Homo sapiens: one gene and its partners. The protein of the gene in region 1 purifies or fractionates together with the protein of each later gene. This does not show direct contact. Each region holds a gene or a part of one and is shown in the gene's direction. Other genes may lie near its edges.

Region 1 (3,500 bases):
AAAATATCTCTGATTTAACCTTTTGAAAGCTTTTAACTAAAGGCTGTGCTGGAGACTTTACCATGATTTTTTTTAATGTCATTTTGATCTAAGCAGCTTTGCGTAAGGCCTGGAAGCTGTGAAAGAGAAAATCTGCATTTGTGGGTGGCAGTGGGAAGCAAGGCAAGCCTGAAGTGTTGATGAGATCTTCAGAAGCGTGGAGTTACAGTAATTTATAGGGACTTTCCCCAGACGAGATTATGTCATAGGAAAACTATCTTATTTAACTCATGGGCAGCAGATGCTGAGAAATGTTACCATGGTATTATTTTTGCTTCTGGAGAATAATCACCCAAAAATTTCGATCTTATCTGCAGCCTCACTGCTGGGATAGAATCATCACAAAGAGGAAGAAAACAGGGGCAGAGCTACAGTGATGGCTTTTGTTGGGAAGTTTGGAATAGGAAGGCGTTTACCAAAACCTGTTTTTCAACACATGTTCTGGAGTGCCGGGGAAGTTTGGAATAGGAAGGCATTTACCAAAACTTATTTTTCAACACATGTTCTGGAGTGCGAGGTTCATGCCACACCCTCACCCGTGCTGGGTTTGGAGATGAGGTGTGTGGGCCCTCACCCAAGTGTTTCCAATAGAGGGATCTCATGTAGCTTCTTTATTGCTGTGATTCCTCACTCCTATTAAATACTGGAGTTTTGGATGAGTGTAGAAGTATTAGCATGACTGATATGAAATTAAGTGTTCTATTGATTAACATGTTTATAATAACTTGTCAGGAATGCTCATAGAGCAGGAAACAAAATATATCTCATTCTTTCTTGGCTACATTTTCACCTACCATCTTGTTTATTATAATAAATTATAAATATATATTTAGCATATGTTACTTATATGATCTATATTATAACTATAGGTAGAGATGTAAATCTCAACAAAGGTATGACTTTCTCACTTTGCAAACAGGTTACTGACAGTAAAGTCTTCTCAAAGTAAAAGGGCACTCTTCAAAAATCTTCTAAATTTTTTTCCCACCTAGAAATAAATTGCCAGCAAGATGGGGGTGATAAAAGGCATTCAGTATTGTGGTTTGGATGACTTTTAGTTCTACAAGTGAATGAGGCATTTGGTGGCTGTTGCTATTTTCAGCAAGGAAGCCACACCCAACATGTGAAGCATTACTGGTACACCTCATGGCCTGATCACAAGACTCCAGACAGTGCCCAGCCCCTCCTACAGCTCATGCTGGATGTAGAAGAAGACAGACTTGCTTCCCAGGGCCGAGGGCCTGTGGTTGTCCACTGCAGGTAAGACGTGTATGGTCCTTTCTGTCTAAGCAATGGCCCATTCTTTGTAAAGTCACAGAGCAGGTGCAAGTGGGTTTTGCTTCCTGGATGTGACTTTGTTGGCAAATTAAATATTTATTGAAATTGGTTAAGTCTGTAATATTTGAGTCTGAATCAAGATTATGCTGACAGAAGTGAAGTCATGCTTTTAGGTCATTTTTCACAAACAACAATTACACAGTCGGCGAAATACAAGTTCGTAATAAATGGCTCAGTGAACAGGAGACCTATTCAGCAGTTATCTGCTTTGAAACTTATATTGATTGATTTAGTCTCATCAGTCTTGTACACACCAGGAATAAAGATGCACTTTTTGAAATTATCAGTGGCTTTTTTGTTGTTTCAACATGACATGTGAACTCTGCTTGGCTTGTATCTTGGTAACATTACTATTTCAAGTTTGGTGAAAACCAGTCAATTATTTTAAGAGTTATCTCCAGAAAAACAGGTTGAAACAAATTTATGAAATGAGAAGTGAGCAAGTCACCAAAGGAAAACAAAGTGCTGTTACCAGAACATGGAGCACTAGAGGCCAAGCCAACAACAGCAGCAGGGTCTGTGCTGGTTCCTGTCCCTAATTTCTAGTTCAAAGCTCTCTTCCTAAAACTGATACCTCCTTCCCCTAATTTTCCTTTTAATGTAACCAAACTGAAGGCAGCATTTTTAAAGTAATTTATATGAACAACTATTTATTTATTTATTTATTTATTTATTTATTTATTATGAGACAGAGTCTCACTCTATCACCCAGGCTGGAGTGCAGTGGCGCTATCTCGGCTCACTGCAACCTCCGCCTCCTTGGCTCAAGTGATTCCCCTGCCTCAGCCTCCAAAGTAGCTGGAATTACAGGCATGCACCACCACGCCTGGCTAATTTTTATATTTTTAGTAGAGGCGGGGGTTTCACCATGTTGGCCAGGCTGGTCTCAAACTCCTGACTTCAAACGTGATCCACCTGTCTTGGCCTCCCAAAGTGCTGGGATTACAAGTGTGAGCTACCATGCCCAGCCAGCCATTTATTCTTCATGCTTTCTCAAAATAATTTGGGTTGCTTTGTTTAACCGCATAGGTCTCTTAAGTCAGCTTTTGATGATATATTTAATAAATATATTATTTTAGAGTATAATTTTAGCCTCCTTTTTTGAGATTGTGTGGTTTAATTAAGAGTAAAGTTTACTATGTGTCTATTTATCCAAAGGTAGATAATACTGGCTTTATCCTAAACTTAACTTGGAGCCAAAAAAACAAAAACAAAAAAACAGCCTAACTGACTATGCGTTAGGGCTGGAACTGTCCCCCACCCAAAGTCATTAAACACTCAGGATATCTAAAATGAACTAGTCACTTCCCCTATAAAACCAGCTCCCCTTCTGATTACTATTTCTGAGAATGAGACTATCTTTTTTCCAGTCACTCAGGATCCCATGTTGACAGTTATCTCTGGTCCTCCTTTTAACTCCAACATCAGTATCTAATCAGTCACTAGATTGGCTTTCCCTTCAAAGCTTCTCCCATAATCACCATTTCCTGTCCAGCCACCATAGTTCAGGCCCTTCTGACCTCATCCATGTATTTTAGAAGTAGCTGGTAAAATGCACACACATACCGCATTCCCCCATGCTCTCACCGCCACCATGGCCTACCTGTGCCCTTTCTCCGTCTCACCTTACATGGAGTCTCTGCTCAAAGCTTGTCAATGGGCCAGGTGCGGTAGCTCACACCTGCAATCCTAGCACTTTGGGAGGCCGAGGCAGGCAGATCACTTGAGGTCAGGAGTTCAAGTCCAGCCTGGCCAATATGATGAAACGCCCTCTCTACTAAAAATACAAAAATTAGCCAGGCGTGGTGGAATGTGCCTGTACTCCTAGCTACTTGGGAGGCGGAGGCAGGAGAATCGCTTGAACCGAGGAGGCAGAGGTTGCAGTGAGTCAAGATCCCGCCACTGTATTTCAGCAGCCTGTGCGACAGAGAAAGACTCTGTCTTATAAAAAAAAAAAAAAAAAAAAAAAAAAAAAAAACTAGAGCAAAAGTCCCTAACGTTGAACCTATCCATAAACCGCAGAGGTCAGTGAACTCCTTGAAATTATTTGGACACATTTGAGTATGTAAACTTATGTGAATTTTTCTGAAGAGTGGAAGCTTATAGTCTTCATCAAATTCTTA
Region 2 (3,500 bases), on another chromosome or scaffold:
GGGCAATTTTGGAATCCCACAGAACCCTCTTCCCTGGGCCCTAAGGGAACCGGCATCGGGGTGTGCCCCTGTGTCCCAGGCAGGGGCGGGGCAGGGCTTGGGGGGTCACTGGGCCCCTCTCACCCTCTGTGTGCCCTCAGGGATCGGGCTGGCCCTGGCTGCGGCAGTGAGGGGCTATCGCTGCATCATCGTGATGCCAGAGAAGATGAGCTCCGAGAAGGTGGGTGGGCGTGGCCAGGGGCGGGGTCATAGGGCAGGGGATGAGGGTGCCTGGGCCAGGCGGAAGGTGCAGGCCACCGCTTTCCCTCCTGCAGGTGGACGTGCTGCGGGCACTGGGGGCTGAGATTGTGAGGACGCCCACCAATGCCAGGTTCGACTCCCCGGAGTCACACGTGGGGGTGGCCTGGCGGCTGAAGAACGAAATCCCCAATTCTCACATCCTAGACCAGGTGAGGCACCTGGGGCCTGGAGACAGGCATTCCCTAGGAGGGTCTCGGTCAGGGATGTGGGGGTGACTGAGGTGTCAGGGGTCAGCTCACGGGCTCTGCTCTCTTTCTATGCAGTACCGCAACGCCAGCAACCCCCTGGCTCACTACGACACCACCGCTGATGAGATCCTGCAGCAGTGTGATGGTGCGTCCCTCTGTCCATCTTGATTGCATTTATCCCTGGCTGCCTGGGAGTGTACACATCTCTTGCCCTCTCCTTGGTGAACTCCTATTCACCCTTCAGAACCCAGCTCAAATGTTCCCTCTGTGAAATGCTTTTCTAGAGCATTTCTCTAGAACAATTTCCTCCCTCCGTTGTGCCCTCTTGGCCTCCGCCTGTGGTTTACCTGTAATAGCAAACACAGGGCATGGCTGTATTTGTTTACCCAGCAATCTCTGCAGGTCTGCAGGGGCTCCTCCTGCAGATAATGCAGACAGCGAGTCTGTTCAGGGCCCAGGCTGGTGCTGGGCTCACAGCTTGGACTTCATTTGGGATCATGCCCTGACTCGGCATCAAATTCATCTGCAGAACAGAGCTGGTGACATCTGCGATGAGCTCACTCTCTGTTACAAGCATGAGGCCGGCTCCTTGGGCCCTTTTCCAGGGACTCGGTGCCAAGGCCTGTGGGGGTTGGTACTGAGGTTTTCCCAAGAGATCCCTTTAGAGATAAGTTGCCAAGAGGTTGGCGCCCTGGCTTCCTATTGGGAATCCGGTGTTGGCATGGGCTGGAGTACACCCTCAGTCCGTGCCCAGGAGCCGGGCTGTAAGGTCCAGGCATTTGGTTGTTTGGGCTTTATGTGTGAGAACTCTCTCATTTGGCAAAAACAGTCCTGTCTCAGCATGGGTGCCCAAGCTGCTCCGTCTCGCTGAGTCTTTCCCTGCTGTGACTTCTCCACCAGATGCCCGCGCTGGCGGCCAGCAGTGTGAGCGCCCAGCGAGTTTCTGCGCTGAAGCCTAAAAGACTGATTCCATTTCCTGTGTAAATTCAGTTAACTCACTCACACCACGCAAACATCCAACAGCCCACGGAGGTGGTTAATTCACAGCCTCCCTCTGCCCGCCCTCAGCGCCTGCACCCCCCGGACAGGGTCCTGTCTTTCTGCATCCAGCCAAATGGGGGTTTTAGGGGTCGAGTGTCACTGAGCAAAGACTGGGCTGGGGTGCCCCAGGCTGCCTGTTTCTGAGGCTTTCACAGACCAAGGGCAGCAACGAGGGCTGCTCCAACTGGAGAAGAAGTTTTTCTTTTGAACTTTTTGGTTACCCACCGTGGTTTGGGCTGAGTGTGTTTTCAATGATTATTACTATGAGTGATGGGCTGGCCAGGCAGGGACCCAAGAATGTTATCCGTCCACCAGGGAAGCTGGACATGCTGGTGGCTTCAGTGGGCACGGGCGGCACCATCACGGGCATTGCCAGGAAGCTGAAGGAGAAGTGTCCTGGATGCAGGGTGAGTGGTGTGGCCGGGCCGGAGAGGGGCAGTGCGGAGTGGCCCCGGCTTCTGAGCTGAAAGCTGTCATTCCTCACGGTCTGCTCAGCACGCTGTCTCCCGCGGTATTTCTGCGCTGCCTGGGAGGTGTTTGGGAAGACAAGGGTGCTTGACACATAAGGGACCAGCAGCTCGTGACCCGAAGGAGCTGGGGCTGGGTGCTCGCTCACCGGCCAGTGTCTTGGAGAACCTTCCTGCGCTGAGTGGGGGGTCGGAGTTCCAACTGGGGGCCTCTGAGGATCAGCCAGGAGCTCTAAGTCCTCTGGTCCTGAGTCTGCCCCTCAACTGGGGCTTGTGGGAGTTGGGAGAGGGTTCCTGGACTCGGGGTTAAGAGCAGGTCTGAGGACGGGTGCCTAGAAAGGTCCCGCTGATGAGACAAGGGCGTTCTCTCCCTGTTGCTTGCCCTTGAAAAAGACGTCACTGCCCAGCAATGCCCTTTGTCCCCAAAGGCTCTGCTGCTCCGCCGCAGGGTGGTCTGTCTGGACTGTCCTGGGGGCCCCGCTCCGAGAAGCACCCCGGGGAGGTCAGTTCCTCCCAGGCACCTGCCTTTACTTCTGAGCGCCCTGCACTGAACATTTAGGTCATTACCGCTTTAATACTTGGAGCCTGGGTTCTTGGGTTTCTCATCCTGCCTCTGAGGCTGGGAACAGGCCACCACCCACAGGCAGATCATTAACAGGCAGTTGTTAACGGCGGTATTGGCCACTCCCATAATAGAATATCGAGGCATGTCCAGGCGGGGCTTTTGCTGGCCTTGAGCCCTGAAGCCGCGCCCTCTGCAGATCATTGGGGTGGATCCCGAAGGGTCCATCCTCGCAGAGCCGGAGGAGCTGAACCAGACGGAGCAGACAACCTACGAGGTGGAAGGGATCGGCTACGACTTCATCCCCACGGTGCTGGACAGGACGGTAGGTCGAGTCCAGAGCCCGGCCACAGTGCCGGTGCAGCCTGTAACTCACCCTCACACTGGGGAGCCTGGCTGACCCTGGGCCCCAACCAGCTTCTCCACTGAAACAGAAGGGCAAGCCCCGCACGCATGGTGAGAAGCTGGTCTCGAAGGTCGAGACAAAGTAGACTGGGGGACGATGTCCGCACACGTGGCCTGACCTCACCAAGGGATGTAGCCCAGGTGGCACAGGCAGGGAGCAGGGAAAACGTGTGAAAATTAAGGCCCCGGAAAAGTCTGTTAAGAGCCAAAAAGCTGACTTTGGCCTGAGGGAGAGCAGAGACCGAAGGGCCGGTGTGGGTCACACGGATGCTCAGTGGGGCTGGCGGGCAGTTTTGCTGTCTGCAAAACGTGTTGGAACTGGAAAGTCTGCAGACGTGCCGATCCCAGGGGGAGAGGCTGGGGTGAGACCTCTGGGGTCCTACCGCCTAGACACGGGGTCCACCATGAGGCTGTTCACCCTCTTGGTCACGTGGGAGCGGCTCCCACGCTGACGGGCTGTGGTGGGGTCCTGCTCAGGTGGTGGACAAGTGGTTCAAGAGCAACGATGAGGAGGCGTTCACCTTTGCCCGCATGCTG
Region 3 (3,500 bases), on another chromosome or scaffold:
GTTTTGAATGTTTGGAATTGCTTTGGGACTACCTCTCTTGCCATTAGTCTGGGCTCAGAAAATAAAAACTAATTTTATTATAACCCAAAATAAAATATTGGGAGGCAGATATCCTGAGGAGAAGATTATAACCCATGAAAAAATCACATTCAGTTATTTTAATTGATCTTTTTGCTGCTGCTGTCTGTTTGTTTGAAAAATAAAGACTTAACTATCTTTGGGGACAGGGAAAAATAGTTATCCATAGAAAAACAAGATTATTTTCACGTAGTCACTAGGTATGGTAAATGATACCTCTAATGCTAGGCCTCCTGTGGCATCAGGCAGGATGAAACTAGACAGTCTCCAATAAAGAAAATATTATTCAGAGATCTGCAAAAGAGGGAGGGAAGCACCAGTTCTCAGAAACAATTGATTCATTCAGTTAACCAGGTACCTAGCTTGTATCATCAACAGAGACAGAGTCGCCAGAAAGCTTTCTTTCTGTCCAACGGTTGATGAGAATGAAGGAGGGACAGAAGAGGGGGAAAAAAAATAAGTAAATTATAGGATCTGTTACAAAGTTGAACATGCTGTGGAAAAAAATAGTAGAGCCGGCTGAGCAGGATCCAGAGTGCTGACGGGGCCTGCAGTAGGTGGGGAGAGGCTAGATTACAGGATGAAACAGGACAGTCAGGGTCAGCCTCGTTGAGGAGTTGAGGTTTAAGCAGAGGCTTGAAGGTGGTGAGTGAGCCAAGTAGGACTTGGGGAAGAGTTTGCAAGGCAGAGGGGCAAGAGCACAGCAAAGGCCTTGAGGTGGGAGTGTTCCTTTCCAGGAGGCGTGCAGGTACCGGGAGGGTGTGGGACTGGAGACGGATTGCAAGGGGCTGTGAAGCCATAGTAAGGACAATGGCATTTGCTCTGGTTGAAATGGGGAACTATTTGCAGGGCTATGAACAGGAGTAGCATGATCTGACATATATTTTAGAAGAATTATACCAGCTGCACTGTTGAGAATTATTTGGGGACACTCACCACTAATCCCAAAGAGTTGTATACTGTCCATGATGTTCATGGATAGCCTAGAGAGTTAAAACTTAAGCTCAGCACACCCCTCTCTTACATTTGATTCATACACTGTTATTATCCATACTTTACAGGTTAGGAAACTAAGGTGCAGGGAGGTAAGGCCACTTATCCAAGGTGACAGATCTAGTAAATGGTGGAGCCGTGATTTGAACCCAGGTTCACATGGAATCCAGAGCTTACATGTTTAAACACCATACCAATCTTTAGGTATCTGGGCTTAAGATGTGGACTTTTTTTTATAATATAAGCAATCATCAACTTCTGTGCCATCCACATACTTACGTAGTCCTGGCTGCTTTGATTCCTTTAGTATCTGTCTTTTGATTTGGCTTCCTTCTGCCTGAGCCTTTCCCCAGCAGCCTTTTTGTGTGAGTTACCTGCTGCCACTAAGGTTTCACCATGTTGGCCAGGCTGAGCTTCCTCCAGACCTCACCCCATTCTGAGTAGATGCTAGTTCCTAGGGCAGTCAGGGTCTCTGTGTAGCTATTGAAGCAGATTCCCACTTTGTCTCCTCTCTGTTTAGTCTTAGTGTTGCAGGGAAATTTGGGGTAATCATTAGTATTGTGTCATTGTTATGTAGGTTTATGTAGGCTGGCCTGGGAATTTCCCTGCAGCTTGTGGCAGTGTTTCTGTGAGGGGAAACGGACTTACAAGTGAACTTTTGGAATACACCGCATCTCTGTGTTAGGGACTCCCTATACTTTTTGTTCACCAAGCTGAGCATGTGGCTAACTTGTAAAAGTCAAAGATCGATAACCAGAATGACCTAAGAGAGCAGTGCGTGCTAGATTAGTGTACTTTTCTACTCGTAAAAATAACTGGTTAATTATTTTTTCCTTCTTCATTCAGAGATGAGCATCAGGATTTTATGGATGAGCAAAAACGACTAAAGAAGCTTCGTGGAAAGGAGAAACCAAAGAAAGGAGAAGGGAAAAGAGCAGCAAAAAGGAAATAGTGTTGGTCCCTCAAGAGGGAGACTTTCTTCCTCAGTGGCGGAGAGAAGAAAGTGCATTTATTGTCTTTCCACCTATTGGAGGAATGTCATCTTCCTAAATGAAGTTTATTTGGAGGAACACAGTCATCTCCTTGGTGAAATCTAATCCGGTTACATTGTGGCTGGTTTCTTGAACACATTCTAACTGTGCAAAATTATCTTGGCCTTGGCCGTGTAATGTGAGGTTTACCTGATTCTCTAATGAAATAAATACCTAAGTTATTGTTTGATGATTTGTTTGGGGTGGGATGGGATGCTGGGGGAATGGAGGGGAAACCTCATTAAGTGAGCATCCTATAGTGTCCTCATTTCTCCCTTCTTGCTTACTGACTCACCCAGCCCTAAACTTCTTTCATCTTGGGCCTTTCAGCCACTGTCTCCACCACCAAGCTCACAAACTTTGTGTGTGTCTTCACCTACTCCTTTGAGAAATCTATTAAGATGAATTTGTAGAGTAAGTATCTTTTAAAAGGAAGTATTGAATACCTGCTCTGTACAAGATATTGGGGCCCTGGTAATACACGTGGTTAGCAAGAGAAATACTCCCTACCTCATGTAAGTTTCAGTCTTGTGGGAGGGACTAATATTACATAATTACATACAATTGTATTACATGCTACAAAGGAAAAAGCCAGACTTCTATAAGAGCATGGATGGATGGATGAATGCAGAGAGAGATAGCCAGAAGCCCAAATCACATTAGGGAGTTTAAAGAAAGCTTCCCTAAAGAAATGATATTTAAGCCAGGCGCTGTTGCTCACACCTGTAATCCCACCACTTTGGGAGGCCGAGGTGGGTGGATCACAAGGTCAAGAGATCGAGACCATTTTGGCCAACATGGTGAAACCCCACCTACTAAAAATGCAAAAATTAGCTGGGCGTCGTGGCATGCACCTGTAGTCTCAGCTACTCGGGATGCTGAGGCAGGAGAATCGCTTGAACCCGGGAGGCAAAGGTTGCAGTGAGTTGAGATCACGCCACTGCACTCCAGCCTGGCAACAGAGCAAGACTACATCTCAAAAAAAAAATGATATTTAAGCTGAACCTTGAAGAATAAATAAGAGGTTGCCAAAAGGAAAATGGTGAGAAAGGGGTTTGAGGCAGAGAGTACTATTTGCAAAGCCCTAAGGTATGAAGAAATTGTCTGTTCAAGAAACACTGAGTTTGTTCATGGTTGGCTGTAAGAAAACAGAGGCCAGATCATGAAGGGCTTTGGAAATTCTGTGGAAAAGCTTGAACATAACTAGAAGTTCTATGAGGGATGACTGTTGTATAGATTTGAGTAGCTCGCTGCTGGTTTTATTGTATTCCAGCAATGAGTTTCCAAAGAAATTGTGAAGGCTTGGCCGGGCACAGTGGCTCACGCCTGTAATCCCAGCACTTTGGGAGGTCGAGGCGGGTGGATCACGAGGTCAGGGGATCGAGACCATCCTGGCTA
Region 4 (3,500 bases), on another chromosome or scaffold:
ACTAAGCTTTGAGTCATGTGTGGGGCAGGGACCTCCCAAATTCCAGTTTCTATGCTGGGTGAGGCCGAGAAGCAATGGAAGGGAAGGGTGGTGGGGAGGCAGCAGGCCTGGCGACCAGGGCACAGGGGCCCCACCCTGCTCTCCGAATCTGGCTGCCTTGGACAAGCCTCCTTGGTCTCTGGCCTCAGTTTCCCCATTAGTAATTGGTGACATCAAAGTCCTCTTGTGGGCCAAAGATATGCCACAGCTGCATAAAACAAAACAGAAGAGAGAGTAGAGGTGAAGGTTTTGTGTGCGAAATTGAAACAGAGTCACTTGAAATGGATAATTTCAGAGTAAAAACTAAGTATTTCTAATTAGGTTGATTGCAGATGTTGGTGCACAGGAAATTCTATGCCTTCGCGTCTAGATTTCTGTGGGGCAATTTGACAGAGTTTATCTCCTGGATTGGCTCAGGGCACTGCACCCTCTTGATTTCGTTCCCCTCTGGTGGCACGTGTCTCCGAGCACCGGGAATGACTGAGAGCCGCAGGGCCGACCCTCTTTGCAGAGCTCTGGGAGCTGCGGGAGGGTTGGGCAGCAGCAGGGTTATGTTGGGTTCAGAATCTGGCGTGAGAGCCTGGCAGTCTCCACCCTCATTCCTCACTGCCGTTTTCTTTTCTTTTTTTTTTTTTGAGACAGAGGCTCACTGGATCGCCCAGGCTGGAGTGTAATGCACAATTTTGGCTCACTGCAACGGGGCTGTCAGGTTCAAGTGATTGTCCTGCCTCAGCCTCCCTAGTAGCTGGGATTAGAGGCACCCTCCACCATGCCTGGCTAATTTGTGTATTTTTAGTAGAGACAGGGTTTCACCATGTTGGTCAGGCTGGTGTTGAACTCCTCACCTCAGGTAATCCGCCTGCCTTGGCCTCCCAAAGTGCTGGGATCACAGGCGTAAGCCACTGTGCCCAGCCCTTCACTGCCATTTTCAAGGCTGCTGGTTGCATTAGGGACCTGTCCCTGAGAGGCTGGGGAACCCCCACGTTGCCCCCGGTGCTTTGCTGGGTGACAGCATGGATGGCGGAGAGCTGCAGCCGGAGTCTGGTGAGATGAGCAGAGCGGCCAGTCTTGTTACCACACTTCTCTGAGTGTTGCTCTCCTGACCAGACGTCCATCTGCGGCTGCCCTGTGGACCTGGGGAGTGGGCGAGCAGTCAGCTCTGTCTGCGGAGTCTTCCTCCGTCTGCCAGGGCTGTGTGTGCCCTGGCTCGGCGCTGTCTGCCATGTGCTCCCGTGGCCAGGGTCGCCCTCTCCTCTGTGGTTTGGCAACTGTCCTGCCCGGCCTACGTCCTGTGGCTCCGGCTGAAGCCTGGGACCTCTGGAGATGGGTGGCTCAGCCCAGCCTGCTGGGCCCACTCAATGCCAGCTTGGGCCCGGCCACAAGTAGGTCAGATGCCAATTCAGTGAGACGCGGGGAAGATGAGGGAAATGACTTGTCAATAAAACAGTCTTAATTATGGCTGTTTTAGAAAAAAACCACCACGAACCTTCCTGAGATCAAGCGCAGCCTGTGCTGGTTGTGTAAGCCGTGGAACGTATGAGAAAGCCAGGAAGAAGAGCACCCCCACGCCCAGCCCGCAGCATCTCACTGGCTTCCTGGCCGCCTCTCCTCATCCCAGTCGTAGAGGCGTGAGCGGGCCGGGGCATCTTTCCTTCCTCGTGTCATGGGGGCTTGGGCAGGCGCCGCTGATGGCCTTACGGGCAGCACAGGGGCCCTGCCTAGGTTGGCCCAGACGCTGTTCTAAACCTCCCCGAGGTGACCTTGCTGCCTTTGTCTCCATGAGCCTCGGAGTATATCCTGAATTTTGTATGATTTTGTGTTTCCCATTTTCCCATGTTCCATATTTTTTTGTTGTTTCTGCATCAGGGTGGAGGCTGATCCACATCCCCAACACCAGCAGTGAGCTGCCGAGGCCCTCGCGCCTGGGCTGGGCACTGTCTGGGCCTGGGCTGGCACCACGAGTAGCCCCCGCACACATTAGGCCGATCTGGAACATGTGGGCTCACCCGAGCTGGGAGCACCAAGACCCTGCCTACATGCTTGGAAGCGAGTCAGGCCACAGCGAGACCCGAACCCTGGTGGGATTTGGGGGTCCTGGTTTAAGACCCTGGCACTTCCTATGGATGTGGAAATCTCTCATTGAAAGCTTCAAAGAGAGCAGTGGTGAGAGCAGCACCTCCACACGCCACTGCCTCCCCGCCCTGGTGCGGATGTCCCTGACCTTCCGCTCTGCCCAGACAGGGCCTGTTTCTCGAGGAAACCCACCAGTTAGAAGGAACCCATGGGAAGAAACGGCCGGAGAGCTGTGAGGCCAGCCACAGAAGAGCCAGTTTTGGAATTTCCCACCAAGGGTTCAGCCTACTGCTCGCCCTTCAGCCTCTGGTGCCCGGCGGCTCAGCTGGGTTCTAGGGCCACGCAGGGCTCTGCAGTGTCACTCCGGGAGAGGGCTGTGGGGGCAGCTGCAGGCCCGGCGCGCCGAGTCCACGCAGCCTGGGTAGGTCCTGCATGGGCCCAGAGGTCGTGGGGCTCAGAGAATTGAACCACGTGGGAGGAGTGTACTGTGGCGGGGGCCCCATAGGAAGCCCACTGTCCTGGAGGCACTGGGGCGGCGGGGGTGTGGAGCGGCTGGCAGGTTCTTGGTAGACGCAGCTGGGGTTCTCTGCTCCTCTGCCCTGCAGCCTTGGCTCCCAGCGAGGTTGGCAACAAGCATCTGGACTCCTGGAAGTCTTCCAGAGGCTGCTCCTTTCAAGTCTCTTCCTAACTGGATGCACGTGGGGTCCCCCGCGGTGCCTCAGCCTCCCCTGCCTTTGATGGCTGGGTATTTTGCACCCAGGCTGCTGGCCCCTGAGCACAGGGATGGGCTGGAGCCACAGGCTGCAGGGAAAGCGCATCAGGAAGGTTCCTGGGGCGTGCGGTTCCCACACAGGTGCGTCCGGGGGCTTCCTGGTCCCTCTGTCAGGAGCCTGAGCTCCAGGGACTGAGACGAGCTGGGCAGAGCCTAGCCACTGTGGCCAGAGCTCTCACTGCCAGCAGGATCTCTCTTCAGGCACCCTGGAAAGGTGCCATGGCTCCGGCTGGTAAACTTGGCCTTGCAAAGCTCCACGTCCCTGTGTCTGGATGTGCCCAGCCCTGCTGATACGGTGTCTTTAGGGTGTCGCTTTTCTGGCCAGAAACGTCTCTGGCCGGCAGCACCTTTGTCCAAGTTCCTGTTCTGCGTCCAGGAAGAATGAGGTAGCAGACAAGTGGAGGGTGAGCATGACGAAGAGAAGCTTTACCAAGTGTTGGGACAGTGCAGAGGAGACTGTGGGGGCAGCTCCTCTCTGTAGGCAGGTCGGCTCATTCAGTTGGCAGCTCTCAGCAGAGAAGCGGCCCCGGACTGGCTGGCTCCTCTCCATTGACTTCCCAGCTCTCAGCAGAGAGGGTAGCTTCCCTCTGCAGCTGGTCTTCCACTTGCCAATTGT

What was found. The genes of interacting proteins can lie anywhere in the genome.
Region 2: the proteins of PTPRR (region 1) and CBS purify together in Homo sapiens (affinity purification with mass spectrometry, with the first as the bait; one large-scale study listed by BioGRID). This does not show direct contact.
Region 3: the proteins of PTPRR (region 1) and MRPS33 purify together in Homo sapiens (affinity purification with mass spectrometry; one large-scale study listed by BioGRID and IntAct). This does not show direct contact.
Region 4: the proteins of PTPRR (region 1) and KCTD5 purify together in Homo sapiens (affinity purification with mass spectrometry; one large-scale study listed by BioGRID and IntAct). This does not show direct contact.

The regions. Positions count from the first base shown.
Region 1 is NC_000012.12:70,658,739-70,662,238, reverse strand, and holds part of PTPRR (receptor-type tyrosine-protein phosphatase R isoform 1 precursor), read left to right. Parts: intron 1-1,031; coding exon of another isoform or gene 1,032-1,037; exon of another isoform or gene 1,038-1,141; coding exon 1,142-1,299; intron 1,300-3,500. UniProt on the Homo sapiens protein: Sequesters mitogen-activated protein kinases (MAPKs) such as MAPK1, MAPK3 and MAPK14 in the cytoplasm in an inactive form.
Region 2 is NC_000021.9:43,062,336-43,065,835, reverse strand, and holds part of CBS (cystathionine beta-synthase), read left to right. Parts: intron 1-140; coding exon 141-220; intron 221-314; coding exon 315-449; intron 450-563; coding exon 564-633; intron 634-1,844; coding exon 1,845-1,936; intron 1,937-2,757; coding exon 2,758-2,883; intron 2,884-3,440; coding exon 3,441-3,500. UniProt on the Homo sapiens protein: Hydro-lyase catalyzing the first step of the transsulfuration pathway, where the hydroxyl group of L-serine is displaced by L-homocysteine in a beta-replacement reaction to form L-cystathionine, the precursor of L-cysteine.
Region 3 is NC_000007.14:141,004,953-141,008,452, reverse strand, and holds part of MRPS33 (small ribosomal subunit protein mS33), read left to right. Parts: intron 1-1,917; coding exon 1,918-2,023; 3' UTR 2,024-3,500.
Region 4 is NC_000016.10:2,689,023-2,692,522, forward strand, and holds part of KCTD5 (BTB/POZ domain-containing protein KCTD5), read left to right. Parts: intron 1-3,500. UniProt on the Homo sapiens protein: Its interaction with CUL3 suggests that it may act as a substrate adapter in some E3 ligase complex. Does not affect the function of Kv channel Kv2.1/KCNB1, Kv1.2/KCNA2, Kv4.2/KCND2 and Kv3.4/KCNC4.